Linked DNA regions of Homo sapiens. The protein of the gene in region 2 interacts with the protein of the main gene of each other region in a pairwise test. Each region holds a gene or a part of one and is shown on either strand. Other genes may lie near its edges. The genes, in order: KIAA1328, DEF6, SLU7 and GOLGA6A.

Region 1 (8,427 bases), on a different chromosome or scaffold from region 2:
AGTATTAACAACAGCCTGCAATGCTCAAGATCTGATCCCTGTAACTTGTTACATCTCTGATCTCACTTGCTACTATTCCTCTCACTCATTCCTGGCTTTCTTATAATTGTTAACAAGCTATGCAAGCTCCTACCTTATAGCTTCTGCAGGTATGATTTCTTCTACCCAGGAAGCTCTTTCCTCAAATATCTTCATGGCTCACTTTAGGACTTATGTCATATGTCATGTCATGTCACCTTCTGATTGAAGCTTTCACTTCCTAACCATATAGGTACTTGAAATTGCAAAACTCTCTCTTCCCACAACCTACCTACCTCCCGCTACTATCTGCCTCTTTCCTGCTTTATTTTTTCTCCACAGCACCAATATCATTGAACATAGGCCAGGTGCAGTGGCTCACGTCTGTAATCCCAGCACTTTGGGAGGCCGAGGTGGGCATATCACGAGGTCAGAAAATCGAGATCATCCTGGCTAACACGGTGAAACCCTGTCTCTACTAAAAATGTAAAAAAAAAAAATTAGCCGGGCATGGTGGCGGGTGCCTGTAGTCCCAGCTACTCCAGAGGTTGAGGCAGGAGAATGGTGTGAACCCAGAAGGCGGAGCTTGCAGTGAGCTGAGATGGCACCACTGCACTCCAGCCTGGGCAACAGACCGAGACTCTGACTCAAAAAAAAAAAAAAAAATCATTGAACATATATTTTCCTTATTCATGACCTGATCTCATCTCACTAAAATGTAGGCACCAAGAGGGTAATGATTTTTGTTTTATTTTGTTCAGTGTTGTACCCTCAAACATAAAAGAATGTCTGGCTCCATCTATGAAAGAATAAAATTGGTATTGATTTAATTTTATGAGGTGTTGTCCAACAACCTTATATGTTATATTTCTGTGATTCTAAATATGCAAACAAAACTTTTTTTTTTTTTTTTTTTTGAGACAGAGTCTCGCTCTGCCACCCAGGCTGGAGTGCAGCGGTTTGATCTCAGCTCACTGCAACCTCCACCTCCTAGGTCAAGCAATTCTCTGCCTCAGCCTCCCGAGTAGCTGGGATTACAGGTGCCCGCCGCCACACCTGGCTAATTTTTTTTGTAGTTTTAGTAGAGACGGCCGTTTCATCATGTTGGCCAGACTGGTTTTGAACTCCTGACCTTGTGATCCACCTGCTTTGGCCTCCCAAAATGCTGGGATTACAGGTGTGAGCCACCGCAAGCGGCCAACAAAACCTTTTACTTTCAGCTACATCCATGACAAATTTATTTTCAAATATATAAAACTCTAAACAAACTACTTCAATATTTTTAATAACAATATTTGAAATTGCCTCTATCCTTTCTAATAATTTGTAATGTATTTTCATCTCATTATATTAAGAACCCAAATATTTACCTCCTTCAAATCTAGAATTTCCCAACAAATGTATATTTTATGGGGAAGTCAAACAGACACATTATATACCAAATGTATAGTGGGCCTACTAGTGGGTCATTTCTAGATTATTTATAATACCTAAAACAATGTACATGCTATATAAATAGTAGTTAAATTGTACAGTTTAATTTGTATTTTTTTGTGTGCTATTTCTTTTTTTTCTCAAATATTTTCCATCCACATTTGAATGAATCAGCAGATACAGAGGGCTAACTGTAATTAGAAACCCAGGCAGAAGTGGTAGAGAGGAAGATGCACCTCTATCCCAGACCTCCAGGATTTGAAGGAAATAAGTTCAGTACTGCCCATTCTACTCTAATCTGCTGAGTTTTGCCAGCAATACATGTATATGTAATTATTATCAACCACAGAGACTTTCTGGGCTAATATATTATTTTTACCACAACATACAGTCTTTGTTTCCATTTGAAAACTCAACAGCAGAGATTATACTGCAATGTTTTGACCAGGTCACTTGCAGTTCATATTTTTTAATATCAAGTCCATGATATTGCTAATGGTAATACACTTGAGTGCATTTAAGCAGTCAAATTTAGGTACTGCTGAAACACTAACTCATTCTGACATTACTAGGAACTGTAATGAAGGACAAAGGCAACTTAAACTGAAGGAGCATATTTTGCTGGAAGATTTAACCCATAACATGACAACACCACACACTCATTGTTTACAGATGAGGTACTAAAACGTTCCTTGTGCAAAACAGCACTGCTGAATCATACTGTGCAGGAGATGTATAACTCACAACAACAACAATAAAAAAAAAAGGTGCCATTGAGTCACAGATGATCTGTCCTCTCATGATGGAAACATCAAGGACTAAGAAATCTCTCCATCACATTTCTCTAAATGTTTAGGTGAAGTATTGAAAATCTTTTTTCAATAGTGTGAAAAGAATACCAGATTATAGGTACTTACTTTTTGGTCTTTTTCTATTGAAAATTCTACTATAAAGGCTCTAGGGTGGTCTGGGAAATAATCAATATGACAAAGGAATCAAGATGCAAAGACATGTAACTAAATCAAATGATTAATAACTATCATTATGCTTTTCAGCAAATATTCAGTAACAAATTTACATTTGACATTGCTTACAGTGACATTCTCTATGGAGATTTAAAATGAAAATATCTGAGGCTCGATGTTAACTGGTCATTACGTGGAATAGTCTGAGGGGAAAGGTGACACTAGCAACTTTGCAATTCCTTTCATACATCTGAATTAGATCTTATAGGATATAATCGCCACCATTTTTCCCCTGTACAATTTCAATTCCTCACTATCTATGAGAGGACGAATATTTTACATTAAATGTTGGGAGTCAGAATACAAGAGATAACGGAGTATATATGACTTCTACATAAAATAGGGGGTGATATAACTACATGAGTAAGTGAAAGTACTGGGTGCGAAGACCAAGAGCTTAGGTTCAGTCCATATATCTATTAATACACTTATTCAGTCCCATTGCAATAGCTTGTCCCCCCCCCAAACCATTGATTCTATATTTGAACAGTACCATAGGATGCTATAAGCTAATAACCTTCAAGTATCTCCTCCATCACAAAATTATGTCAATGCAGAAGCAGTGTTTCTTGAGAAAAGACTTATCCCAATTTCCTAACTTCCTAATTCAGCCCAGTTGTCCACAGTGCACATATTCTCTTCTGAAAGGTAAAGGAAAAAATATTTAATTTGCACACTGCACTAGTATGCTTTCATCCACAGTGTATGTACATGATTTCATTTGCTTTTCACCAACCTATCAGAGACAAATGGTAATTATGTCTAGTAAGTGCAAACACTAAACACGAGCAGCACAGAATACAAACATATCCCTCTCTCTACACATGACACTAATCCTAGTAACTCAACAAAGGAGTTGATAACACAGTTTTGTAAGTTTCACTGGGAGCTAAGAAGAATGCCCAGTGATTCTGCCAAAGGTAACAGCAACGCCTCAATTAATGCCATCACCAATCCTAGCAAACACAAAAAGAGCTGCCTCTGCAAGCACTCAGTAACACAGATTGCCGTCCCTCTTTCAAGTAACCCCTCTAAGGAACGTGAAGTAAATTATCAGGACCAAAGCTCAAGCGAGAAGAGTCTACCTACTCCAAGGAAAGAAACACTCCTGTCACACAAACATCTCATCACTGCTGCTGAACTGGTAATACTACCACTGGACTAAAAAGTTCCACTGCTTCTCCACCTCACAACGATCCAAGAACTTCAATGACTGCCAGTGACCCGCACTCCACAAGTAAGTCAACAATACTTCCAGGCACAATGATTCCCATCTTACGCAGTAACCAGCACCACCAGACCACATCCCAGTAACCAAGCTCCACACCTCTCCTAAAACCCCAGTATTAAAATACATCATCACTGGAGGGCCTTTTAAGTCCGAAAGGTCCTGACTTGCTCCTAGCAATGCAGACTAAAGACAATCCTAAATCAAAACAAAAAGGCTCCCTGTCCAGCCAACACCGACTCCTCCCTCAACTTCGAGCTAGCTCCGCACACTCAAGTCAGCCTGGGGGCACTCTGACAGGGTGGGCAGAGGGACCTCGGAGGGCCATCTCAGCCCTGGACTGAGCCTGGACTCAAGGCTATCTTTCTCGAGCTCACCGGTAGTGAGCGCTGGGAAGCATCTGAGCCGTGTCCCCACACCTGCAGACAGTACCAGTCTCTCGGCCACCTAACACCCAAGCAAGGGGAGAGCCCAGCACCTAGACTGGGGCCGAGCAGCACGTCCCCATCCCCGGGGTTAGTTCGGAGCTTCTCCTCCGCTCTCGGACTGCCACGCGACGGCTCGCCCCTCGCCGTCCCGTGGAGGGCGCCGGCGCCCCCTGTCAGGCGGGCAAAGGATACAGTCCCGGCTCCAGAACGCCGCGGCACTGGGGCGGGAGGGGCCCGCCACGTCCGCCATCTTGAAACAACCGCCACTCGGGGCGTCGCGCCTGGGCCGCCACGCCTCGGCCTGCAGGCTCGGTCCCCATTGGCCGCACCACGCAGAGGCCCGCCCCCGCCTGCGCGGCCGGCCCCTGCGGGGCGAGAGGGTGGGGGCGAAGGGGAAGCTACGTCCCGGAGGTGCGGTGTGGGGCACCGGGCGGGGCCGCGGGAACCGGCGCCCCACGGAGCTGCTGCTGTCAGACCAACCCCGGGCCCCCATCATCACTGCGCCGCGCTTTCAGGCGCCGAGAACTACCGTTCCCGGCATGCCATGAAATTGGCCTCGGCGCTGAGGCGGGGTCCGGCCCTCCACCCGCTCCCGCCGCGCGCGAATCGCGGTCGCGAGCCATGGAGGAGGAGGCATCGTCCCCGGGGCTGGGCTGCAGCAAGCCGCACCTGGAGAAGCTGACCCTGGGCATCACGCGCATCCTAGGTGAGGAAAGGGGGCACGGTGCCGAGAGGGTGTGGAGGAGAAGGAAGGAGGAGCGGAGGGATGAGGTGCGGGGTGAGCGGTGCGACGCTGGCCCCAGAACAGGAGTGGACATCGCTGCTGGGACTTCCGTTGTTACAGAGGAAAGTGGGGGACCTGGGTTTGTGATTAGGCCTTGAAAGTGTTTGCCAGGAGTGTTCGGAGGCAGAGCTGGGAAGCCTGAAGTTTCCCCCACTCACCGCCAACCAAGGTCCCACCCAGGAAGGACGGGCAGAGACGTGCAAAGGGAACACAGCAAGCACCTGACGGTTGGGAAGTTGGATCTCCCCCTAGGAGGCATTCTCAGCCAGGGCATTATCCCCGAAACCCAAGACCTTTCTCTGGGGGAAGTAATGCACCCGACCTCCCAGGGCGACAACTACGTCGGGTCTGAAAGGAATCCAACCTTGCACCACTGAATGACTCAGAGTTTTTCTTTTATCGAACATTTCTTTGTTTGCTTGCTTGTTTGTATTTTGAGACAGAGTTTTGCTCTTGTTGCCCAGGCTGGAGTGCAATGGCGCGATCTCGGCTCACTGCAACCTGCGCCTCCTGGGTTCAAGCAATTCTCCTGCCTCGCCCAGCTATTTTTTTGTATTTTTAGTAGAGACAGGGTTCCACCATGTTGGCCAGGCTGGTCTCGAACTCCTGACCTCAGGTGATCCACCCGCCTCGACCTCCCAAAGTGCTGGAATTACAGGCGTGAGCCACCGCGCCTGGCCTATCAAACGTTTCTTTAGTACTCACCACTATGTTAGACGTGAGGTTAAAAATATGAAAAAGACACAGTTCTGTGAAAAAAATAAACAAATGAGGTCACTAGGAGTGTGAAAAGAGGTCAGTAATCTGTTACTCAGAGATGTCACAGAGGAGGGGACTGATCTTACCAGGGAAGTTAAAGAACATGTCACAGAGGAGATGATGCTAGATTTTGAAAGACATATAGGAGTTAGCCAGAAAACTAAGGAGGAGAAAGGTCTTTTAAGAAGGCTGAAAAGCATGCTTCAGTGCCTTCCCATCACAATTATAATAAAATCCAAATGTCTGTACCATGACCCACAAGTCCCTGTAAGATCTGCTCTCATCTCTTTCTGACTTTGTTTCCACTCTTGCCCACATGGCCTTCTAGCTGTACCTTAAACACACTAAGCGGGTTCCTGCTTCAGGGCTTTTGCAGTTTGCTAGTCCTTGCACCTGGAATTATCTTTCTCTGAATGTCTCGCTTCTTCAGGTCATTCAGATCTCTGATCAAATGTCATTATTTCAGAGAAACCTTCCCTGAATATAGTTCGAATAACCGCCGTCTTTCTTGCTCTCTCTTTCCTTACCCTGCTTTTTCTTTTATTCTTATAGCACTTTCACTACTTGAAATTATGTATTTGTTTGGTTGATTTTTAAAATTTGTGTCTCTTTTAATAGAAGTCCAAGACCAAGTGTGATTTAGGAATGAGTGGTTTTAACATATGAAAATCAATTAATAGCTGGGCATGGTGGCCCATGTCTTTAGTTCCAGCTACTGGGGAGGCTGTGGTGGGAGGGTTATTAGAGCCCAGTTCAAGTCCAGCTGGACAACATAGCAAGACCCTGTCACTAAAAAAAAAGAAACTTAAAAAAAATCAATTAATATAATACAACTTACTAATAGAATAAGACAAAAACTGCATAATCATCTTAATAAAAAAAGCATTTGACAAAATCTAACCTTTCTTGATTAAAAAAAACTCAACAAACTAGAAATAGGATGGGATAGAGATAGAATTTCCTCAACCTGATGAAGGACATCTATGAAAAACCCACATCTAACATCATATGTAATGGTGAAAGACTGGCAGCTTTCCCCTTAAAATCAGGAACAAAAATTGTATTAGGGTTCCCCAAGATCACACCAGATTCAATGATTTGACGCAAGGATTACAGGACTCAGGAGATAGTCCTACTCATGGCTATGATTCATTACAACAAAAGGATTTTGGCAGCCCGATTGGCAGACCTTTCTGAGGATTATTGTCTCGGGCCTGCTATGTTCACTCTTTTCTGCATGGCAAGAATTCCACTTTTATCACTTCTCTTCAACATTGTACTGGAGTTTCTAGCTAGGGCAATTAGGCAAGAAAATGAAATAAAGACATCCAATTGAAAAGGAAGAAGGTAAGCTATCTGTTTGCAGATGACATGATCTTGTATATAAAAAATCCTAAGGAATCCACACACACACACACACACACACACACACACACACACAGCCTATACACCAGCAATGAACAATCCAAAAATAAAACTAAGAACAATTCAATTTACAATAGTATTGAAAAGAATAAAATGTAGCTGGCACAGTGGCTCACACCTGTAATCCCAACACTGGGAGGCCAAGGTGAGAGGATTGCTTGAGACCAGGAGTTGCAGACCAGCCTGGGCAACATAGCCTTTATGAAATATTTTAAAATTAGCCATGTGTGGTGGTGCATGCCTTAGTCCTAGCTACTCAGGAGGCTGAGATAGGAGGATTGCTTGAGCCCAGGAGTTCGAGGCTACAGTGACCTGTGATCACACCACAGCACTCCAGCCCGGGCAACAAGAGTGAGACCCTATCTCAAAAAAAATAAAAGAATAAAATAGGAATAAATTAACACAAGATGTCCATGACTTATGTACTGAAAATTACATAAGACTGTGGAAAGAAATTAAAGAAGACCAAAATAAATGAGAAGACATACCATGTTTATGGATTGGAAGAGTTAATATTGTTAAAATCTGTTACTCCCCAAATTGATCTACAAATCTCACATCTCCAGTTCCCATCAAAATCTCAACTGTCTCTTTTGTAGAAATCAGGAAGCTAATTTAATCCTAAAATATAATATAGAAATGCAAGAGACCCAGAGTAGCCAAGATAAACTTTTCTTTCCAAAACAGGAAAAAAGTTCCTCTTACTCACATTTCCCTATACTATATTTGAGATGATGGAAAAGTTCTGGTGATGGTTGTACAACAGTGTGAATGTACTTTATGCCACTTAACTGTACACTTAAAATTGACTAAAATGATGATTTTATGTTATGTGTATTTTAATACAATTTAAAAAATTTAAAGCCACAGTTGTCTTCAGAGTGGTAGTGGCATAAAACTAGAAATGTAGATCAATGAAATAAGATTGAGAGTCCAAAAATAAACATCATATTTATGATTCATTGATTTTTTTTTTTTTTTTTTTTTTGGAGACGGAGTCTCGCTCTGTCGCCCAGGCTGGAGTGCAGTGGTGTGCTCTTCACTCGCTGCAAGCTCCGCCTCCCGGGTTCTAGCCATTCTCCTGCCTCATCCTCCCGGGCAGCTGGGACTCCAGGCGCCCACCACCACGCCTGGCTAATTTTTTGTATTTTTAGTAGAGACAGGGTTTCACCATGTTAGCCAGGATGGTCTCGATCTCCTGACCTCATGATCCACCTGCCTCGGCCTCCCAAAGTGCTGGGATTACAGGTGTGAGCCACCGTGCCCGGCCTGATTCATTGATTTTTGACAAATATGTTAAGACTTCTCAATGGGAAAAAATAGTTT
Region 2 (8,395 bases):
CAAAACCCAGTAGCATTTGTATACGCTAACAGCAAACAATCTGAAAAAGAAGTTGAGTGCAATCCCATTTCCAACAGCTACAAAGAATGTAAAATACCTAAGAATCGATGTAACCAAAGTGAAAGATCTATACAAGAAAAACTATAAAACTGATGAAATAAATTGAAGAGGATGCAAAAAAATGGAGAGATATCCCATGCTATGTATTGGAAAAATTAATATTGTTAAAATAACAATATTACCCAAAGCAATTTATAGATTTGGTGCAATCTCTGTCAAAATAGCAAAGGCATTCTTCATAGATATAGAAAAAAAATCCTAAAATTTATACGGAACTACAAAAGACCTCAAATAGCCAAAGTAAGCCTGAGTAAAAAGAACGAAGCTGGAGGCATCACATTTCCTGACTTCAAAATACACTACGAACTGGCCACGGTGGTACACACCTATAGCCCCAGCTATTCAGGAGGCTGAAGCAGGAGGATCCCATGAGCCCAAGGAGACTGAGGCTGCAGTGACCTATGATCATACCACTGCACTCCAGCCTGGACACCAGAGAAAAATCCTGTCTCTAAAATAAAACAAAAAAACAAAATGTAGTACAAAGCTATAGTAACCAAATCAGCATAGTACTGGCATAAAAAGAGACACAAAGACCAATGGAACAGAATAGATAACCTAGATATAAATCCATGCATTTACAGAGAACTCATTTTTGACAAAGGCTCCAGGAACACACAATGGGGAAAGAACAGTCCTTTCAATAAATGGTTCTGGGAAAACTAAATAACCACATGCAGATGAATGAAACTAGACCCCTATCTCTCACCATATAAAAAAATCAAATAAAAATGGATTAAACATTTAAATGTAAGACCTGAAACTATGAAACTACTAGAAGAAAACATTGGAGAAATATTCCAGGACATTGGTCTGGGCAAAGAGATTTTTTGTGGAAGACCTCAAAAGCATAGGCAACCAAACCAAAAATAGAAAAATGGGATTATGTCAAGCTAAAAAGCTTCAGGACAGCCATGGAAACAATCAACAAAGTGAAGAGACAACCCACAGAATAGGAGAAAATATTTGCAAAGTATCAATCTGACGAGGGATTAATAACCAGAATATATAAGGAGCTCAAACAACTCTGTAACAAAAAACCAAATAATCCAGTTTAAAAATGGGCAAAAGATCTGAATAGATATTTCTCAAAAGAAGACATACAAATGGTCAACAGAGATATGAAAAAATGCTCAATGTCACTAATCATCAGAGAAAAGCAAATCAAAATTAAATGAGATATCATTTCATCCCAGTTAAAATGGCTTTTTACAAAAAAAATAGAGAACATCTTTTTTTTTTTTTTTTTTTTGAGATAGAGTTTCACTCCTGTCACCCAGGCTGAAGTGCAATGGTGCAATCTTGACTCACTGCAACCTCCATCTCCAGGTTCAAGCGATTCTCCTGCCTCAGCCTCCTGAGTAGCTGGGATTACAGGCGCCCACCACCATGCCCGGCTGATTTTTGTATTTTTAGTAGAGATGGGGTCTCACCATGTTGGCCAGGCTGGTCTCAAACTCCCAACCTCAGGTGATCCACCAGCCTCGGCCTCCCAAAGTGCTGGGATTACAGGCATGAGCCACTGCGCCTGGCCAAGAATATCTTTTCTGTAAAAAGATGCTGGAGAAGACGTGGAGAAAGGGGAACCCTGATAAACTGTTAGTGGGAATATAAATTAGTACAGCTACTATGGAAAACTGTATGAAGGTTCCTCAAAAAACTAAAAATAGAACTATCATATGATCTAGAAGTTCCACTGCTGGGTATATATCTAAAAGAAAGTAAACCAATATATTGAAGAGATATCTGCCTTCCCATGTTTACTGCAGAGATATTCATAATGGCCAAAATATGAAATCAACCTAAGTGCCCAGAAGTGGATAAATAGATTAAGAAAATGTGATATATATAATATTATTCAGCCATAAAAAGAATGAAATCTTGTCATTTGCAACAACATAGATGGCACCATAGGTCATTTTGTTAAGTGAATAAGCCAAACACAGAAAAACAACTATCGCATGTTCTCACTTACATGTGGGAGCTAAAAAAGTGGATCACATGAAGATAGAGAGTATATTAGTGGTACCAGAGGCCAGGAAGTGTGGGGGGAGGACAAAGAGAGGTTGATGAATGGGTATAAACATACAGTTTGACAGGAAAAATAAGACCTAGGATTCAATAGATCAGTAGGGTGGCTACAGTTTACAATAATCTATTGTATATTTCAAAATAGAAGAGAATAATTTGAATGTTTCTAGCATAAAGAAATATTTGAGGTAAAGGATACCTAATGACATGATTTGATTTTTATAAAATATATGAATGTATTAAATTATCACATGTACCCTGAAAATATGTACATCTGTTATATATCAAAAGAATTTTTTAATTTCATGAATGTATTTAATGCCACTGAATTGTACGCTTAAAATAGTTAAAATGGGAAGTTTCATGTTACACACACATATATACATATTATTTAAAATAGTAAAGACGCTTGTGTTTTAAGCCTCTAAAATAGTGATGAACACAAGGGAGGAAACAGAAGGGGAAGACAGAGGAGAGGGGTATGGAAGGAGAATAGGGAAGTACAGAGTTGCTAAAGGGAATGGAATATGGGTGAAGAAGAAAAACCTTTAAAAGGGATTTTTAGAAAGATTTGCTGTGTAGTATAGATATAAGCCACTTCCTCTGAAATCTTGAGCAAATTCCATATTATTCACCAATTACTTTGGTGCTTGAGTTGCAGTTTTAGTTTTAAGTGCTGACGTGGATGAGAATGGCCTTGAGGCATCCGGATATATTTGGGTCACACTAATCTAAGCAGGAATTTGTGTCACTGTGGCTTTTCTCCATTTGCCCCTCTCCTGACCCCCTTGTCTTCTCATGCCCCTGAGGACACTCTGGGCCCTGAGATGTCCTCCACCCCCATCCTGCCCCTCACCTCCACGCAGCAGTGTGCATCCAGCGGGATAATGCCCCTTTTCTCTTTGCACTCTTCACTCCCAAAGTAGCAGAGGCAGCTGGGCTGCAGCTGGAACCAGCGTTCGGCCCAGTTCCTTCTCAGGTGCCCTCGCTTCCACAGGTAGCCCTGCCAGCCGGAGTTACGTCAGAGGCTTCCCAGGCCCCCCTTCGCCCTGCACCTTGTGTGCTTCCCCTAGTTCCCAGCTTGCCTGACCTGCTTCAGGACATCTTGGATGAGCTCCTGGTAGACCTCGTGGATGGCCATGCTGAGGGTGTCCCGGCCCACGCCCCGCAGGCAGCGGCCCGAATTGAAGAGCTCCAGGAACTGCCAGACGCTGAGCCCCCCGGTGGTCTGGGCCACCTGGGCCTCCTGGGCCAGAAGCTCCTCCAGCTCACCCAAGCTCACCTCCAAGCTCATGCTGCTGAGTACCTTTTTCAGCAGGTATTCCACCTGGAGCAGGAGAAGGAAGGCCTGGTAGCTGCAGCAGGTGGTGTTGCCAGCACCAACACCAGGGAGTGCTCTATCTGGCTCCCAGAGCCTGGGCAGAGGGAAACAGGGGACAGAGCGTTGAGGGGGCCAGAGGACCGAATGTTATGGAGCCAGGGAAAAGACCTGGGAGAGGATCCTGGAGCCCCAACCCCAACTCAGGTTTTCTCTCCCCGTCCACAACCTCCAGTCCCACTCCTTCCTGTCTTAAGGGCAAGGTGAAGGGGACCTGAGATCTGGGGTCCAGAAAGAGGCAATAAATCACAGAAAGTGTCAAGGGAGTGCAAAGGCCCTCTCATCCAATCACTCATTTTGCAGATGACCAAAAAAAAGCCCAAAGGGGGAAGTGACTGGCTCTAAGTCACACAGCAAACTGGGGGCAGCCAGAACCCGATTCTGATCTCCTGAATCCCATTCAGGTCCTTATTCCAAGCCCCAATCCCCAACCCTGGGGATCTTTCCCTTGTGGGAGAGGAAGGGGATTTGGGGTAGGGGTAGGCGTTGGGGAGTGGGGAGTAGAGGTAAGCTGGGCAGGGACAGGAAACCTGTTACAGAGGAACCGGAAGTGGTGGCTGGGGTACATCCTGCTGCAGTTGTTAACTCTGTATGTTGATCGCAGAAGCAAACAACCTCCTGGCCTCCGAGGCCACCTTGCCCTGACTGGCAGGGGTCTAACAAGGGCAGCCAGCCAAGTGTATGTGCAGATGGACACATGTCCCTCACCTGCCCCAGCAGCTTTTTGGGACACTCTGTTTAGGACTTTCTGGGGGATCCTGGGTCTTGTTTGGGTGTTTAGTAGAGGGCACTGGTTCAGGGCTCGGGTGGTTCCCTTCATCACCCTTCCCACAAACAGAAGCCAGGACAAATGTGAGTGGAGCTTGACATGCTAGGGCTTCTTGTAAGTACAGAAGCCCCCTCTCCTGTAAACCCCACTCTAAAGACCTAAAGTCACCCTGGCATCTCCACAGCCACCAAGAGGACTAAAGGGTCACAAGGCCAAATGGGCAGGGGAGGGAAGTGAGGATAAGAGGGAGGGTACAGGTGGATGGGAAAATGCCTTCCCTGGCTTCACCCAGGAGTAAGGAGATAGGGACCAGATTCCCAGCCTTTTCTCCCAGGATGCCCTATCCCTGGGTCTCTTAGCTGAGTTTGTCCTGGCTTTCCAGAAGAAAGGCAGAAAGGGAAAATCTGGAACCAGAGTAACCTCCTGTCTCAGAAAGGTCTCCCCTTGCCTTGTAAAGCATCCTTCCTGTCCTGGAAGAAGTGGCAAAAGGTAAAGGAAAAAAAAGCACCCTTCCTAGATTGCCAGTAATGCTCAGTAATGTATCTGGCATTTAGACCTCTGTGTAAACAGAATTTGCAGATCATTTTCCTACAGTGAGGACCAGCAGAACCCTCATGAAAGTGTAATTTCAGTTTTCCTGGAAGAAGGCAAAATTACTCTGACACAGGCAGTTCTAGGCATCTGGAGACAGCTGGGTGAGGACAGATACCAGCATGGGAAGATGGTAAAGAAAGAAAGGGGATATGGGAAGGCACCAAAGGTGGTTTGGTCTCATTCATGGTTTTGCTTAGGTCTGGTCCCAAGTGATTCAGTCCCTGGGGCTGCCATCACCCTCACCTCATCAGGAACCATGATCAGAGGGTACTTGTCCTCAGACAGGAAGTTGAAGAGGCACCAGAGGCGGAAGGCATCCTGATTGGAGAGCATACTGTTCCCGTTGCTATCTGCCCGATAGTTCTTCTTGGCCGTCAGCGTCCAGCACAGCTCATCAAAGTGCTCTTTAACAAAAGCCCCCTCCTCCACCTGCCACCAGGGCTGCAAATCAGCTGACTGCATATCTCAGCTCTACCACGACACTAGGCTCCAGCTGGGTTTCTTGGGTTCATCTATGCCCCTGCTCCCCACCTGGCCAAGTCCAGGGCCCTAACTCAAGGGATCCCTGAGCTGATTACCAGGTAACTAGCTGGTTCCAACCACTCCACCCTCCACAACACACCCACACCCACCCAGGCCCCCTGACAACAGATTAACTCTAGTCTTTCAGCCCAGAGGACAAAGAAGGAGAAACCCAGCAGGAAGCTAAGAGCCAAGAACCTGGAAACACAGTGACAGATTGGAGGAGTTGGAGGGGGAGTTCAGGGGGACAGTCTGGGAAGGGTGGAGAACCCTGGAAGCTGGAGGAGGGCCGGGCAGGGATTCGGTGGAAGGTTATGGGTAGGGTGGGGCCCACCTCATTAGAGATGAGGGACATTGAAGGTGAATTGAGGGGGACAGGAAGGGGGCAGGTGGCTGGGATGTGAGGGACGTGATGGGACAGCAGTCACGGACAGAGCAGGCAGAAGTAGGAGTTTATGGCAGGGGCGAAGAGTTGGAGTGGCAAGGTATTAGGCTGCTGGCCAGGCTGGAAAAGTGGGGAGAGGTTACAGATGCTCCCTACAAGCTGGGCCCCACCTTGTCCAGGATGTACTTGTTGAGGTAGGGCATGTATCCCTGGCTGGACACAGGGCCGTCATCATCATCTCGGAAGTGTTCCTCCAGGGCCACGGGGTCATGGGGGATGTGCAGGACCGTGTACAGGTTGTGGGACAGCACCTGGGATAGAGTAGAGTGGCAGTGTGTCTTTCTGCACCCCAACCAAAACTGGGCCAGAGGACTGCTCCCCACCTCTCTGCTTGTCCTCACCCCATCCTGGCTGAGTTCTCTACACACACTGTTCAGTTCAGTAATAACTAAAACTTATATACTATGTGCCAAGCACTGAGCTAAAGTACTTTACATATCATTTGCTTAACCACCATAACAACTACTCATATACCCATTTTACAAATGAAAACTCCTGCAGCCCTGAGATATTTCTCACCCAAGGTCACAGCTGGCAGAACTGGAATTCAAACCCATGCAGTTATACTCTTAGCCACTTCATTAGGTATTGGTGTCCTCTTTCTACAGACAGGGAGACTGAGGCTCAAGGGATTCAGTAACTTGCCAAAAGACCCACACTGAACAAGAGCTTGGAGTTCAAATCCATCTCCATCAGATTCCAAAGCCCAAGTGCTTCCCACAATGCTAGACAGTTTGCAGGGTTTGCAGGGACTTAGTCTGCCACCCCAGGGCAGAAGCTGCCAATTTATCATGGTTTCCATCAAAGACTCAGTGTCCTGGCTGCAGTGTGCCTATCACCTAAGCGTGTCTGCTCTGGGAGAGGAGAGGGCTCAAAGAAGGGTCATGAAAAATGGTCCATGACATGGAGAGGGCAAGGCTTAGAAGGGATAGTGGTCATAATGGTGTGCAGGGGAAATGTGGGTTTGTTGAACAAATCCATGATATTAGAATAAAGGGGTTGAAATCTGAAATCTGGTGAAAATAAAATCTCCTTGGGGTAATTCTATTATAGCATTTGTCACAAGCAGTGTAAATGATTAAAAAGTCACTAGTTACTATTGCACACTTACCATATGCCGGTCACTGTAGGAGGTGGTTTATTTAATTAAAACTGTTTTTTATTTTATTTTATTTTATTTTATTATTTTATTTATTTTATTTTATTTTATTTTATTTTATTTTATTTTATTTTATTTTATTTTATTTTGAGACGGAGTCTTACTCTGTCACCCAGGTTGGAGTGCAGTGGCATGATCTCAGCTCACTACAACCTCCACCTCCTGGGTTCAAGTGATTCCCCTGCCTCAGCATCCTAAGTAGCTGGGATTACAGGCACCCACCATCACATTCAGCTAATTTTTGTATTTTTAGTAGAGACAGGGTTTCACCATGTTGGCCAGGCTGGCCTCGAACTCCTGTCCTCAGGCGATCCGCCCACCTCGGCCTCCCAAAGTGCTGGGATTACAGGCCTGAGGCACCATGCCCGGCCAAAACTTTTTTTTTTTTTTTCGGTAGAGACAGAGGTCTGCATATGTTGCCCAGGCTGGCCTTGAACTGCTGGCCTCAAGTGATCCTCACATCTGGACCTTCCAAAGTGCTGGGATTTCAGGCATGAGCCACTACACCCAGTCAAAGCGCTTTTTATACCCCATTTCTAGTCTTCACAATCACCTATATACGCAAATATTATTAAGCCTGTTTTTCAGGTGAAGACACAGAGGTTTGGAAATTTTAAGAGTAAATGGCAGAGCTGAGGTTGAAACTAAATGTGCCTGGTTCACAGGTTGCCTTCCTACTAGAATACTGATGTCAAGTCTCCCTCCTCCGTTGGATTGTGAACTCTGGAGACAAGGTCTCTGTTCATCTTTATGTCCCTCAGCATCTATGTCCTCTTTTGTACATCAAGTGCAATCAATACATGCTATATTGAAGGGCTTCTTCCACCACCAGCAGTTCACCTTGGAATCAGTTCCTAGGAGGCAGGAGCTAGCACTGTCTCGGAGATGGTGTGTGTGCCAAGCCTTCATTTTATTCTCTTTTCAGAGAGGAGGGGGAGAAAGTATTGAGACTTTGCCTCAGTGTCCTCCTGGGGCTCAGTTTTCCTTGGCAAACTGGGAAGTGGGAGATCCCAGGAAGGGAGTATTTCCTTTTTTTCCCTCATTTCCCTCTGGGCAGTTATCCCTGGAGTTTTTGGTTATGTGAGCCAATAAATCCCCTCTCCCTTAAGCCATTTGAGTTTGGTTTTATCACTAATTCCAGGAAAGTCTTGCCTAACACATCTGTGGTCATAGAATACCAATCCCCACTCTAAGGGGTGCCACTGGCTCAATGCCTAGCACTTAAAACCCAGGGTGACCACCTCAAGAGAATAATGCCAACATCCACTGACCACTTCTGAAGTGACAAGTGTTCAAGTTTTATATATTCTCATCTGCTGTCTCTTGGCCTCTTTTCAAACTACCCGTGTCCTTATCTTTTTTTGAGACGCGTTCCAA
Region 3 (8,395 bases), on a different chromosome or scaffold from region 2:
TAAGTAGGAAAAAGTAATAACTTACACTAGGGTGGTAGCAGTAAGAATGGAAAGAAGTAGATGCATTTGAATGATACTCAAAAGGTGAAAATAACTGTTCTTAGTGATGAGATAGATGTAGGGATAAGCTGAAGCACTTAATGTAAAGGGACGGATGGTGTTGTCTTTCATTAAGATAGGGAAGAGTAGGAGATTAGATTTCAGAGGGAAGATCATGAGATTGAATTAAGACGTATTGAGTTTAAATGCCTCTGGCCTCTAAGTGGAGATGTCAAGTAAGCAATTGGATATATGTATCTGAAGCTCAGATAAAAAGTCTTGAATAGAAAAATACGTTGTTCCTTTATTATTTTTTATTTTATAGAAAAATAAGTTGGAGAGCCAGCAGTGTTGTATTGTGACCATTGAAGCCTTGGAAGTAAATGAGCTTATCCATTAGTGGGAGTTTAGAGTGGCTTAAAAGGTGCTGACTGAGCCTTGAGGAATCCAACATTAAATAACTGGGCAAAATTTGATGACAAGAGAGGTACAAGAAAAACCAAGAGGGCCAGGCACAGTGGCTCACGCCTGTAATCCCAGCACTTTGGGAGGCCAAGGTGGGCAGATGGCCTGGGGTCAGGAGTTTGAGAGCAGCCTGGCCAGTGTGGTGAAATCCTGTCACTACAAAAAATACGAAAAAATTAGCCGGGCATGGTGGCGGGCACCTGTAATCGAGCTACTCGGGAGACTGAGGCAGGAGAATCGCTTGAACCTGGGAGGCGGAGGTTGCAGTGAGCTGAGATCATGCCACTGCACTCCAGCCTGGGCAACAGAGCGAGACTCTGTCTCTAAAAAAAAAAGAAAAAGAAAAACCAAGAGAATGTAGTGTCAGGGAAGTCAAGACATAATATATAAAAAGGGAAGGAACAGAGCTGAAAAATGTCCATTGGATTTAGCACAATGGTCCTTGATGACTTAATGATGTAACTCTTTTCTTTAGAATGGTAGGGAATGGAGGGCTAAGTTAGAGTGAGTGAGGATGAAAATAGAAGGTGAGGAAATGGAGGCAGTGAATATAGATAACTCTTGAGATATTCATTCTTGAAGGGGTACAGAGATAGGACCCTCTTTTCTCTCATTAAGAGTTACTGTGTTAGAAAAGTTTGAGACATACACAGAAAGAGGGATTAAGGATGGATATGAGAAAAGAGTCCTGTGAAATTTTAAATACACGTGTGTGTCTCTCTCCATTTGTAAATTGGAGTTGAGAGAGAAACAGTGCTAACAGTATGTAGAGACCTTGAGGAGGGGGAAGAGACCCTTCCTTACACATAATATAGGAGAAAAAAAAACATATGAAACAGTATATATTATTAGGATGTATTTTTGGTAGTTTGAGTGAATTCATGAAGGCCTACTTTTTACTGTAAGTTTCACTTCTTTTCCTAGAGGAGGCCAGATAACCATGTCAGCCACAGTTGTAGATGCAGTTAATGCTGCACCCCTATCGGGGTCCAAAGAAATGAGTTTGGAAGAACCAAAGAAGATGACCAGAGAGGACTGGAGAAAGAAGAAGGAGCTAGAAGAACAGCGAAAATTGGGCAATGCTCCTGCAGAAGTTGATGAAGAAGGAAAGTAAGTACTTAATTTTTTGTATGATCCATTCATTCAGAATTCAAATTCATGTCTACTTAGTTTATTAATTTTTCATCCTTTGAGAGGAACCTCTCTTCATTTATGTCATTTTTGTTTTTTATTTTATCAAACTCATATGCATATGGTTTAATAATGAAATTATGTTGAAGGGCTTATAATGAATAGCAACAGTCCTTTTTTACCGTTCCCACCCCTGGCCTGCTCTACAGAAGTGACTGCTATGAAATCTTTCTATTTTGAGTTTTTCTGGTTGTTACCGTCACATCTCTAGATAATAATACCTACACAATTATTTTAATTAATTGACTATAGACATTATTTGAACCAAAACTTCTTGTGATAGAAGATTTAGATTACTAACACACATCTCTATTTTCCTTCCTCTCTTGTCCCCCTTCAGTTATATCACTATTCTTAGTTTCTTAGTTGGAAATATTTTCACTCTAAAATAAATTACTTCTTTATTTTTAATTATTCTTTATTATAGTATAGAGATAGCAACCTTGTTCTCTTCCCCCTACCACTGCAATATTTCTGTTCTTAGATTTTGTATAAGCTACCTTTGTAATTGTAATACTGATTATTTTCCAATTTTATCCTTAAATTTTTTTTTTTTTTACTTTAATTACAGAGACATCAACCCCCATATTCCTCAGTATATTTCTTCAGTGCCATGGTATATTGATCCTTCAAAAAGACCTACTTTAAAACACCAGAGACCACAACCAGAAAAACAAAAGCAGTTCAGCTCATCTGGAGAATGGTACAAGAGGGGTGTAAAAGAGGTATGTAGGCAACCTGTATACATCTTCATGGATATGGAGAGTTTAAGAACTTAATGTAAGAATTTTTAATGCAATACTATTTAAAGTAGAAACAGATAATAAAACCCTTTATCTGGTATTGAAATTCACAGTGCATTACTATTTTATCTTTGTGTTTCTTATATAAATTTTACACTCCTGAACTCTTTAAAGTTTCACATTTATAAATGTGTGGAGACTCTAACTTATTTTCCTTTTAACAAAGAAATCATTTCCCTAGACAAAATAGTAATGAGAGTCAAAGTTATTTCTAACTTACGTGGTTAAGACATTTTTGTTTTTCTTTATATATATTTATAGAATTCCATAATTACTAAGTACCGCAAAGGAGCATGTGAAAATTGTGGGGCCATGACACACAAAAAGAAAGACTGCTTTGAGGTAAGTTCACCTTTGAAAATTTTGAAAACCGTTGTCAGAGTCTTTCTTTTTTCTTTGTCAGAGAGCTAACTTCTCTTTTTCTGAAATCACCTATATTTAGGTACAAGTTAAATAAAAATTAGTTTCAGTGGAATTGGTTCAACACCAACAAAATTTTCTACTGTAAGACTAACTGTAAATTGAATAGATCGTAAAGTGCCCACTCTGTAAAAGTTGTATGAAGTTTTCCTTTGGGCCATAAAAACTTAGGAAAAGATTAAATCTTACTCTGTTTTTAGAGACCTAGGCGAGTTGGAGCCAAATTTACAGGTACTAATATAGCTCCAGATGAACATGTCCAGCCTCAACTGATGTTTGACTATGATGGGAAGAGGGATCGGTGGAATGGCTACAATCCAGAAGAACACATGAAAATTGTTGAAGAGTATGCCAAAGTTGATTTGGTGAGCAAAATTCCCTGCTTTCCTGGGGTTTTTAAAGAATCGTCCTTTTGCTGTATCTCTAGCAGCTCTACTTTTCAAATCTTGAAGCACTTTAAAAATGGTAGCATTTTTATAATAGTAGTACTACTGTATAGGCTACCTTTATAATTGTAATATTGAGTAAAGGAAATAGTGTGCTAGCCATACTTGCCAGCAGTTTCTTCTTATTTGATTCTTATATTGGTCCTTTACTCCCTGACTTAGGTAGCAAAAGATATTGGAAGCATGAAGACAGATTAGTGTCCAAAGCTTTTGGTTTTGTGAGGTTAGAAATGTATGGCCCCAAGCTATAGCTTGCCCATGAACCTATTTTATAGTTGCCTCCCATAGCATTTGGGAGTAGTAGAAAGGGAATGGATAATTTGTTTCAGAAAATTTTATTTTATTTTAACCCAACTTCAGTTTTTACTGTTATGATTTGACCTATTCACCCTTATTCCTTTGAAGTCATAGTCACACTGCCTTTTTTTTTTAATTAGAGGTATCATTTTAAAATTATAAGATTTCATATAAAAATCTGGATTTCATCTTTTCTTGAATATTGTAATATATGGTAACCCCACGCCTGCCTGGTAAGAGTCAGTCATCTAGAGTTCTGTGGCAACTGCTTGTTTTTGTCAGGGCTTGCTCCCTGCAATTTACTACTGATGCCATTTGGCTCAGTTTACATTAATGCCTGGTTCAAACACTGTGTAACTCCTGCTCTTTATAGAGTAATAGGTCTAGGGCTACAAGGAATCCCAAAGAGATAGGTTTGTTCAGTGACCTTTTCTGAAATAAATTAATTTAAAGTTATTCATTTTAAATATATAAAAATTTAGGTGGTGACTTGAATGTTGTAAGTAAAATTTAAATGTTTACTTTTTCTTTCTTTCTTTCTTTTTTTTTTTTTTAAAGGCAAAACGAACATTGAAAGCCCAGAAACTCCAAGAGGAATTAGCCTCAGGAAAATTAGTGGAACAGGCTGTAAGTAATGAAAATGATCAATAAAAAGGTTTTATTTCTTTTAAACAAAGAAATGAAAATTGAAACAAGAATTCATTTTATAGCTCTTCAGTTAGGAAGAGAGAAATGCTATTGGGGGAAAAATAAAACTGATACTTTGTATACAGTTCATAGTAATATAAATTGATGCAGTCAGTTTGGGAACAATATTGCCACTATTTATATTTAGACACACACAAACATTTACTTTTTCAAGTTAAATTATTAAAGCTATCCATCCTAAAGAATTTTCTAGAGTTTAGAAAAATCATGATGCATAAAGATAGTACAGCATTTTTCACAATAGTAAAGAAATTGGAATAGCTTAAATGTCCAGGAACAGGGAATTGGTTAAGTGCATCTGCATGGTGTAATGCTGTGTAGTTCTTAAAATGGCATTTCTCAAGACTTCATTAACAACACTGGTTAACACTTGTATTTGAATAATACATGAAAAGATAGTATAATATTATCACACAGAAAAAAAGACCAGAACACTAGTTTTTATTTAATGTAGAATTTATGAATTTTTCTTTCTATTTCTTTAGTATTTTCTGCATTTCCCACAATGAATATGTATTAGTTATATAACTGGGCAAAACATTTTTTATATGAATGAAAGGTCTATTGCAGCCAGTTTTTTTTTCTTTTTTAAAAATCCTTGTCAATAGAGTAAATATATTATGCATATTAGAGTTGTCAAGTTTCTTTTTAACAAATCTAGGCACAAATAAATAGTAAACATTTATAGTTTTTTAGTTTAAATTTCTAAAAGGGACTCTAAACCATGTATAAGTAACAAAGCAAACAGAACTTGAAATAATTACCAAGTAAGCAGTTACCGAGTTACTAAGGTAACCTACCAGGCAAGTTAACATTGTAAGTTACCAGATAGGTGTTTAAAATCCATCTCTGGCCGAGCACAATGGCTCACACCTGTAATCCCAGCACTTTGGGAGGCCGAGGCAGGTGGATCATCTGAGGTCAGGAGTTCGAGACTAGCCTGGCTAACATGGTGAAACCTCATCTTTACTAAAAATACAAAAATTAGCTGGGTGTGGTGGCGAGCACCTGTAGTCCCAGCTACTCGGGAGAATCGCTTGAACCCAGGAGGCAGAGGTTGCAGTGAGCCGAGATCACGTCACTGTGCTCTAGCTTGGATGACAGAGCGAGACTCTATCTCAATCAATCAGTCAATCAGTCAATCAATAACAAAATCCATCTCTGCTCCATGAGACATACATGCTCTTAGAAAAGTGAATTTGCCGGCCGGGCGCGGTGGCTGACGCCTATAATCCGAGCACTTTGGGAGGCCAAGGCGGGTGGATCCCAAGGTCAGGAGATCGAGACCATCCTGGCTAACACGGTGAAACCCCGTCTCTACTAAAAAATACAAAAAATTAGCCAGTCGCGGTGGCGGGCGCCTGTAGTCCCAGCTACTCGGGAGGCTGAGGCAGGAGAATGGGTGAACCCAGGAGGCAGAGCTTGCAGTGAGCCAAGATCATGCCGCTGCACTCCAGCCTGGGCGACAGAGTGAGACTCCGTCTCAAAAAAAAAAAAAAGTGAATTTGCCTCTCTGAGCTGCAGTTTAGTATGTCTGAAATAGAAATGATAACACCTACCCCCAGGAAGCTTATATACATATCACATAGTAAACACTGGGTAATTAGTAGCTATTATTGTTGTGATTATTTTTATTTATTACTAACTTTGGGAAAAGAAAAAGGGCCTGTTTCTTTTGTTCTAATGTATTCTCTGTTGTTTGTTGTAAACGTAATGTAATTTATTTCCCCAGTAAGGATACTTAATGTATGTAAGGGGCTAATGATTTTTGCCCACTTGGATGCTTGGATTATTTTTTTTTTATATACTTTAAGTTTTAGGGTACATGTGCACAACGTGCAGGTTTGTTACGTATGTATACATGTGCCATGTTGGTGTGCTGCACCCATGAACTCGTCATTTAGCATTAGGTATATCTCCTAATGCTATCTCTCCCCGCTCCCAGGATGCTTGGATATTAAGATGAACCACATACAGTAGATTTAGAGACTTAGCTGTCACTATAGAAATGTATGTAAATGTCTTTGGTGAACTAGCAAATAGTGGGAACTCAAAAAAATTATTTTTTACAAAATATTTATATTTCTAATTTTGAAAGTAACACATATTAAGTGGAAAAAAATTAGAACATAATATAAAAAAGAAAATATCCCTGTGTTAATTGTGAACATTTTGAAGTAGGCCTTTCCAGGTCTCTCTTGTCCACATATACCTGTTCATGTGTGCTAGAATACAAAATGTTTCTTACATGAATCCATCTTTATATATTCATTTATTACCTTCTTTTTTAATTTAACAACATAGAGTACAGTGGGAACGTGTTTTCTGTCTATATTTATAGACCTATAGCATCATTTATTTTTGTATGAATTCACATGGCTCAAAAATTAAAACAATTTAAGAAGATGCACAGCGAAGTCTCTCCACCCCTGTTTCTATCCACCCTAACACTAAACTTCCCCTCGCCCCAACTCTTTTGTGTATGTGTGTGGCTCCTTTCAGACTGTCTTGAATAAATACAAATACAAATATATACCCTTATCCTATCTGTCTCTCCCCTCCCCTTTTTTTAATCAAAAAAGTTAGGAAACGATACATACTTTTCTGCCCCTTGGATAGAATCACTTTTAATGGCCGTTCAGTGTTCCATGGAGTGCAATACATTATATAACCAGTGATCTATTAATTTGATTTTTTCCCAGTGTTTTGAAAAAACATTGCACATATACAACACTGCACATCACATTCTTATACATCTTTATATAATTGACATGATACTAGGATAACCTTCTAGAAGTGTATTTCAGTGAGTTTGTATTTCTAAAATTTTTATGACATATCACTTAGCCATCATTCAGAAAAGCCATGCAGATTTATGCTTCCATCTATATAGTATATATACATACACGTGTTTCTGCATCTCCTCACTAATGCTATAATGTATTCTCTTTTTTTTTAAGTATTTTTAATCTTTGAAGCCTTTATGAAGGGACATGATGAAATACCACGTTAGTGTAGGCATTCTGTGGAGTTAGAAAGTATTCTGACCAATTGCTAGCGAAGAAAAGTGTATCCTTGTGACAAGGAGTTTGGCCTCTCCTTAAATTACAATACTGTGTCACTTGTAGATTTTTTTCATTGCCCAAACTTCACTTTGGCTGTGAAGACATGAACCCAGTAATATTTTCTTTTTGGACTTACTAGGAAACTAGTAACGTTTAATGAATACAGTATGTCTGAAGACTAACACATTTAGAAATTAATATTTATTGGGTACTTTGGACATCTTAATCTTTCTGTTACCATTTTGTGGTTATAATCTTAATTAAAATTCTCTTGAAATTTGCTGGCTTTATAGACAGTGTAATAAAATTATTTACAATGGCACTCTTGTATTCAGAATTTTTGCGCTCATTATAACTGAGAAGTGTGAGAGTTTGTTCAGTTAGAATTAAGTTTTATTATCTTAATACTTATTTATAAGTTACATATTATATATTATATAATAAATATTTATTATATATAATATAAATATAATATATAATAAAATATATTTTATTATATAAATATATTATTTATAATAAGATAATAATACTTTATTATCTTAATAATAAAGTTAATTGGATTAAGTGGAATGAGATTATGAATGATTTTTCTTCTTTCATGATGCAGAATTCTCCAAAACACCAGTGGGGAGAAGAGGAACCAAATTCTCAGATGGTAATACATATTTGCTGTCTCTGAGTATATGTTAAATTTTTAAATTTCTGATGGCTAATAATAAATAACACTAATAATAGCTTTTAAAGAACACAAGTAAATAAGGGTTTGGTTAAAGGGAAAGGGGAAAAAAAAGAACTACATGCTGCTTTCTTTTCTTCTTACTTTTCCTTCCTCTCCCTCTTTTAGGAAAAAGATCATAATAGTGAAGATGAGGATGAAGATAAATATGCAGATGATATTGACATGCCTGGACAGAATTTTGACTCCAAGAGACGAATTACTGTCCGGAATCTCAGGATTCGA
Region 4 (4,589 bases), on a different chromosome or scaffold from region 2:
AGAATTATAAAGAAAAACTGTTAGACCAAATAAGGTGGCTAATTAACAGTGGTATGATTTCTAGCCCGAGGGTCTAAATTGGACTCAAACTGTCTTTAAACTGAACTCAAAGAATGCAAAAGTGGCAAGTTCAGAAAATAAAAGGCAAGAACAGGACTTGAAGTCCATTTTAAACCCTCGGGCTAGAAATCGTCCTACTGTTAATTAGCCACATTCGTTGGTCTAACAGTTTTTCTTTATAATTCTGGAACTGAGTTTATCTAATACATTGATAAATTCATACAATTTGGAAGAGTCAGTTGAAGTCACAAGGACTTAATATTTGCACTCTTTCACTGAATGCAGGCACATCTGTTATTCCATCTGTAAAATCGTATTATTGCTCTCCTATTAATGTCATATGTATAAAAGTATCATGAGGATGCCAAATGCTAAAAATGGAGATGGTCTAGTAACTAGAAATGCCCACCCCAGGGAGCGCACACACATCTCTCCCTGCATCCTAATACTGTGACGTATTTTGGAACACAGACATTAGAACTTCATGAACTTTTAGCTGTTGATTCTTTCCCAAGCATCTTAAAGTTATGATTTAGGCAATGTATGACTGAAATAATTCACTCATCACGTATAGGCACATTAACATAAATATGGCACAAAATATGCCTCTAACTGAAACTGAGAGGTATAAAAACATATTTCACTCTTTGTGAAGAACTTTGTGAGGAAACATAAGTCTGTCATTGTATAGACACTTTTTCTCATAATACTTGGACATTCACAAACATTAGATTGCACTGCAGCTTGTAAACATTTTAAGTTGCATAAACTTCGCCTTGATTTTCATGTGTAGTATAATACTGTCTACTAAAACTCCTTTTTGTTTCAACTAAGTACTCTCACATATATTGGTTTATAATAATGGTTGTTATTATTTTTAAAGTGTTTTCCATTCAAAGAAAAGAAGTAAATTCCTATGTCAGAGTAACTAATGTGGCTGAAGAATAGGTATTAGCCAGAGAGGTCTAGATGATAAAATCAATCTTCTAGCCTCAAAGAAGCTCCATGAACATAGAGGAAGGCCAGGTGTCACACAGCTTTCCTTCACTCGAATTCATTCTTGACTAGAGCCTGTATGCCTCTTCCAGGGACATTTAAACTCTTAAAGGATTTCTTATGATCTTCACTAAATACCTTAAGAAGAATGCCAACCAGTGCCCTTTTGTGTACTGGGACATATACTCGTGATTAAAACAGGTAACATGAACTCTGACTTTAAAATGTATTGTAGATATAAATGCTCTAAGCTAGAAAAGGTTTTCCACATCCACAGTCAATGATGGGAGCCTTTCATTCCTCAGAAATAATCCCTTTTTAGGTCATCAAGAAAGGGTACAACTGCTGCAGCTCATGATGCAATATCTTCATGAGCCCAGAGCACATACAAATCCTAAGGGAACTACCATAGTACAGCGCTCATTCTTGGCACCAGAACAAATGAAACACACTCTATCCTGCACACACCTGCCAGAGCAGGCCACTTTCCTCTTCTGTGAGATTTAAAAAGCTCCCCAAAATGTTATTACTCCCATCCCCAATACACAGAAAATAGGGAAAAGGCTGTTTCCAGTTCTTGGCCTTTAAACAACTCTAAATGTCAGTACTCACAGTGGCATATTACAAAGTAATAAACAGTGCTCAATTGAGGGCAAACCACATATTGAGCTAATGAAGAGCTCACTGTGGTTAGGATTCGATCAAACGTAATAGCAGAACATAAGCACATTTTATCTGAATTCTGGAATGAATATACATGCTGCAATAACATTAAAAAAGCATGGCAGCCTGTTCCAAACCAGCCAGAATAGTTTTGTGCAAATTAGTGGGTCTTTGTGTGTTTGAATTCCCACCACCTAAGGGCAAACTCGATATGCATACTAATGACCTACAATTATCAAATTAAAAATAAAAATGCTAAAGGATGCCAGAAAGAACATCAGGGAAAGACCAACTCTCCCTTAACTTTTTACAAATAAATTTAAACGGTAAATTAGAAACACAAATAAATGTGAGTGGCTCTAGCATTCAAATGGAGTAAATGAATTGTGTAGGAGATGAACCCCGTAACTTTTTGTTGTTGTTGTTGTTTTAAATTTCTTGACCAGCTCTTAGAAGATGATGATGTTTATCTCCCTGTTCTCGGCTGCCTGGTAGAAGAATGGCACGCAGGGTTTGCTGGGCAAGCCTGGGTGCTCCTAGGTGTCCTGCATGACAGGAGACAGCTGCACGATCTGCTGTACAGTGGGGTTGTCATGGGGAGAACCCTCCCTGGCCGCTCCTGGTGCAGGCTCCACGTTGTTGTCCAGGCTCACTTCATAAAAAACTTCGGAGAGAGGGAGGCGGGGGTCTGAGCACAGTGCGAGCCTCCCCTGCCCCTGCCTGCCCACCCCGCCTGAGAGCTCTACTCACCATCCTGCTCACCGGCAGCCCCAAGTTCCTGGGGGGCTGGGGCCCCTGGAGTGGGCTCATCAGCAGGGTTCTGGGCAGCGATGAGGAATTTGCCATGCCCCTCATGGTTGCCCACAAGGGGCAACACCAACTCTTGCAGCTCCAGCAGCTTCACCTGAAGGGAGGGGTGCTCAGCTCCCACCCTGGAGCCTGCACCAGCGCCCATGCCCACCCCCAACCCCGCAGAGATGTTGCACGCCCTACCTTCATCTCCTCCTCCTTCTGGGCCAGCCTGATGACATCCTCCATCTCCTGGTGCCGCGTGTTTGGCACTGCCCCCTGGCTTTCATATACGGTGAAGGACTCTCCTGTGAGAGGACACAGCTCAGACACTAGGGTCCCTCCGACGGCCCTGCAGCTCCCCGTGCCCGTGCCCTGGCCTCCCGCTCACTCATGCCGTCTGTCACTCCAGAAGGCTGGACGAATCCAAGCTCTCGTCTCTCCACCTGCTCCGTCCCGTCCGCCTTCTCCTTCGGGAGGTCCATAAAGCTGCTCTGGAGCCAAAATAATGGGGTCACATCTCGGGAGTGACCTGTTCTGCCCCGCCCCCACTTTTCTTGGCCCATGCCAGGACTCACTCCCTTTCAGCTTCACCATGGCCTCCTTCAGGGCCCGGTAGCTCTCCCCACACACAAACTCACCCCCACTCCCTGGGGCTGGGGCCTCTGCCTCTGGCTCCTTCCAGGCGAAGGCCAACAGATGAGCCAGGTGCAGGCAGCACAGCCTTCACACCTTCCGCTGCCCACATAGCCGTGCCTGCTCCTCCTGGGAACTGGCTCCAGCAGAGGTGAAAAATGCCACTTGAAGGCAAGAGGTGAGTATTCTTGTAGGGGCATAGACAGAACAAATGAGGCAGGGAGGTGGAGAACAACCCCTTCCCTTGGGGCCTCAGAGAGTGCACCTGTTGGTCACAGGTGACAAAGTGTCTGACCACTGGCTCCCGGAAGGGGTGAGGGGCCAGAGCAATCAGAAGGTGGGAAAACCAAGAGCATAAGGGGGTCTGGGAGGGACCACAGAGGAAGGTGGCAAAGCGGGGCAGGGAAAGTCAGGCTCACCGTGGCCTCCCGGCTCTCCAGGTCCTCTGGGATGTTTGGCGTGGGCCGAGGCGCCTCCTCCTCCTCACTGTCCAGATGTTGTCCTCCATCTCCTGTAGGGAGGTGGCCAGAGGGGTCCTCAGACAACCCAACAAGGGAGGTACTGTGGGCCCACCTCTGTCCCCACCCTGACTGTGTAACCCTGAGCCAGCCTCTCCCCAGAGGGGAGTGAGCTGCTGTTCTTTATTTTTCCTTTTAAGAACCAAGATCTTGCTATATTGCCCAGGCACAGTCCCACTACCGGTCGGTGCGGGAGTCCTGACCTGCTCCCTTTCTGATCTGGTCCAGTTCATTCATCCTTAGGCAACCTGGTGGCCCCCTGCTCCCAGGAGGTCACCATATTGATGCTGAACTTAGTGCGGACACCCGGTTGGCATAACGACCAGCTGTTCTAAAGGTCTCTTCCAACCCCTCAATCCTATGCTGCTAACAGTCCCCCCTTCCTCCTGGGGCTCTCTCCTCTTCCTCTGAGTGGTCTCCTGTACCTTCTCCAGGGAGAGCCACGAGGCTTAGCTGGGTCTCTAGCTGTTGGTTCTGGTGGCTGGCAGCTTCTAGGTGCTCCTAAGGGGACGGGAAACAGAGTGAGAAGGCACGGAGGTTGCCAGGTCATCCCCCTCGGGGCCCCGTCCTCAGCAACTCCCTCCCCTGGGTCTCCTGCAACTTTTGTCCGGCCATCTCAGCCACCGCTTTGCCCCAAGCTTCCTGCTGCTGCAGCTGGTCCACGAACTGGGTCTGCAGCAGTAACTGCCTGTGCAGCGCCTCCTTCTCAGAGGTCAGCTGCTGATAGGTGGCCATGTACTGCTGCAGGTGACCCAGGTACTAGTCTCGCTGCTGCTGCAGACTCTGAGACTCTTGGCTCTTCAGCTCCACCTGCAGGAAGACCCTGGGCATGAGGGCACATGGCGGCTGGCTTCCAGATTCTGGGCCCATTAATAGGGTAGCGAGGGCACCGTGGGGCTCTGTCACCTGCCCAGGACCCTGGTCCCT

Evidence for each region.
Region 1: the proteins of DEF6 (region 2) and KIAA1328 interact in binary tests that used the Homo sapiens proteins (3 or more experiments, as listed by UniProt).
Region 3: the proteins of DEF6 (region 2) and SLU7 interact in binary tests that used the Homo sapiens proteins (3 or more experiments, as listed by UniProt).
Region 4: the proteins of DEF6 (region 2) and GOLGA6A interact in binary tests that used the Homo sapiens proteins (3 or more experiments, as listed by UniProt).

The regions. Positions count from the first base shown.
Region 1 is NC_000018.10:36,825,095-36,833,521, reverse strand, and holds the start of KIAA1328 (protein hinderin), read right to left. Parts: upstream 4,396-8,427; 5' UTR 4,384-4,395; coding exon 4,326-4,383; exon of another isoform or gene 2,370-4,325; intron 2,356-2,369; exon of another isoform or gene 134-2,355; intron 1-133. Other genes in the region: TPGS2 (tubulin polyglutamylase complex subunit 2), read left to right, coding at 4,755-4,839. UniProt on the Homo sapiens protein: Competes with SMC1 for binding to SMC3. May affect the availability of SMC3 to engage in the formation of multimeric protein complexes.
Region 2 is NC_000006.12:35,307,385-35,315,779, reverse strand, and holds part of DEF6 (differentially expressed in FDCP 6 homolog), read right to left. Parts: intron 6,111-8,395; coding exon 5,970-6,110; intron 5,322-5,969; coding exon 5,136-5,321; intron 3,567-5,135; coding exon of another isoform or gene 3,479-3,566; coding exon 3,242-3,478; intron 3,155-3,241; coding exon 3,008-3,154; intron 1-3,007.
Region 3 is NC_000005.10:160,408,344-160,416,738, reverse strand, and holds part of SLU7 (pre-mRNA-splicing factor SLU7), read left to right. Parts: intron 1-1,428; coding exon of another isoform or gene 1,429-1,444; coding exon 1,445-1,614; intron 1,615-2,266; coding exon 2,267-2,420; intron 2,421-2,759; coding exon 2,760-2,840; intron 2,841-3,118; coding exon 3,119-3,283; intron 3,284-4,219; coding exon 4,220-4,288; intron 4,289-8,041; coding exon 8,042-8,089; intron 8,090-8,278; coding exon 8,279-8,395. UniProt on the Homo sapiens protein: Required for pre-mRNA splicing as component of the spliceosome. Participates in the second catalytic step of pre-mRNA splicing, when the free hydroxyl group of exon I attacks the 3'-splice site to generate spliced mRNA and the excised lariat intron.
Region 4 is NC_000015.10:74,068,655-74,073,243, forward strand, and holds the end of GOLGA6A (golgin subfamily A member 6A), read right to left. Parts: intron 4,164-4,589; coding exon 4,088-4,163; intron 3,656-4,087; coding exon 3,564-3,655; intron 3,003-3,563; coding exon 2,900-3,002; intron 2,817-2,899; coding exon 2,713-2,816; intron 2,624-2,712; coding exon 2,470-2,623; intron 2,384-2,469; coding exon 2,256-2,383; 3' UTR 1,203-2,255; downstream 1-1,202.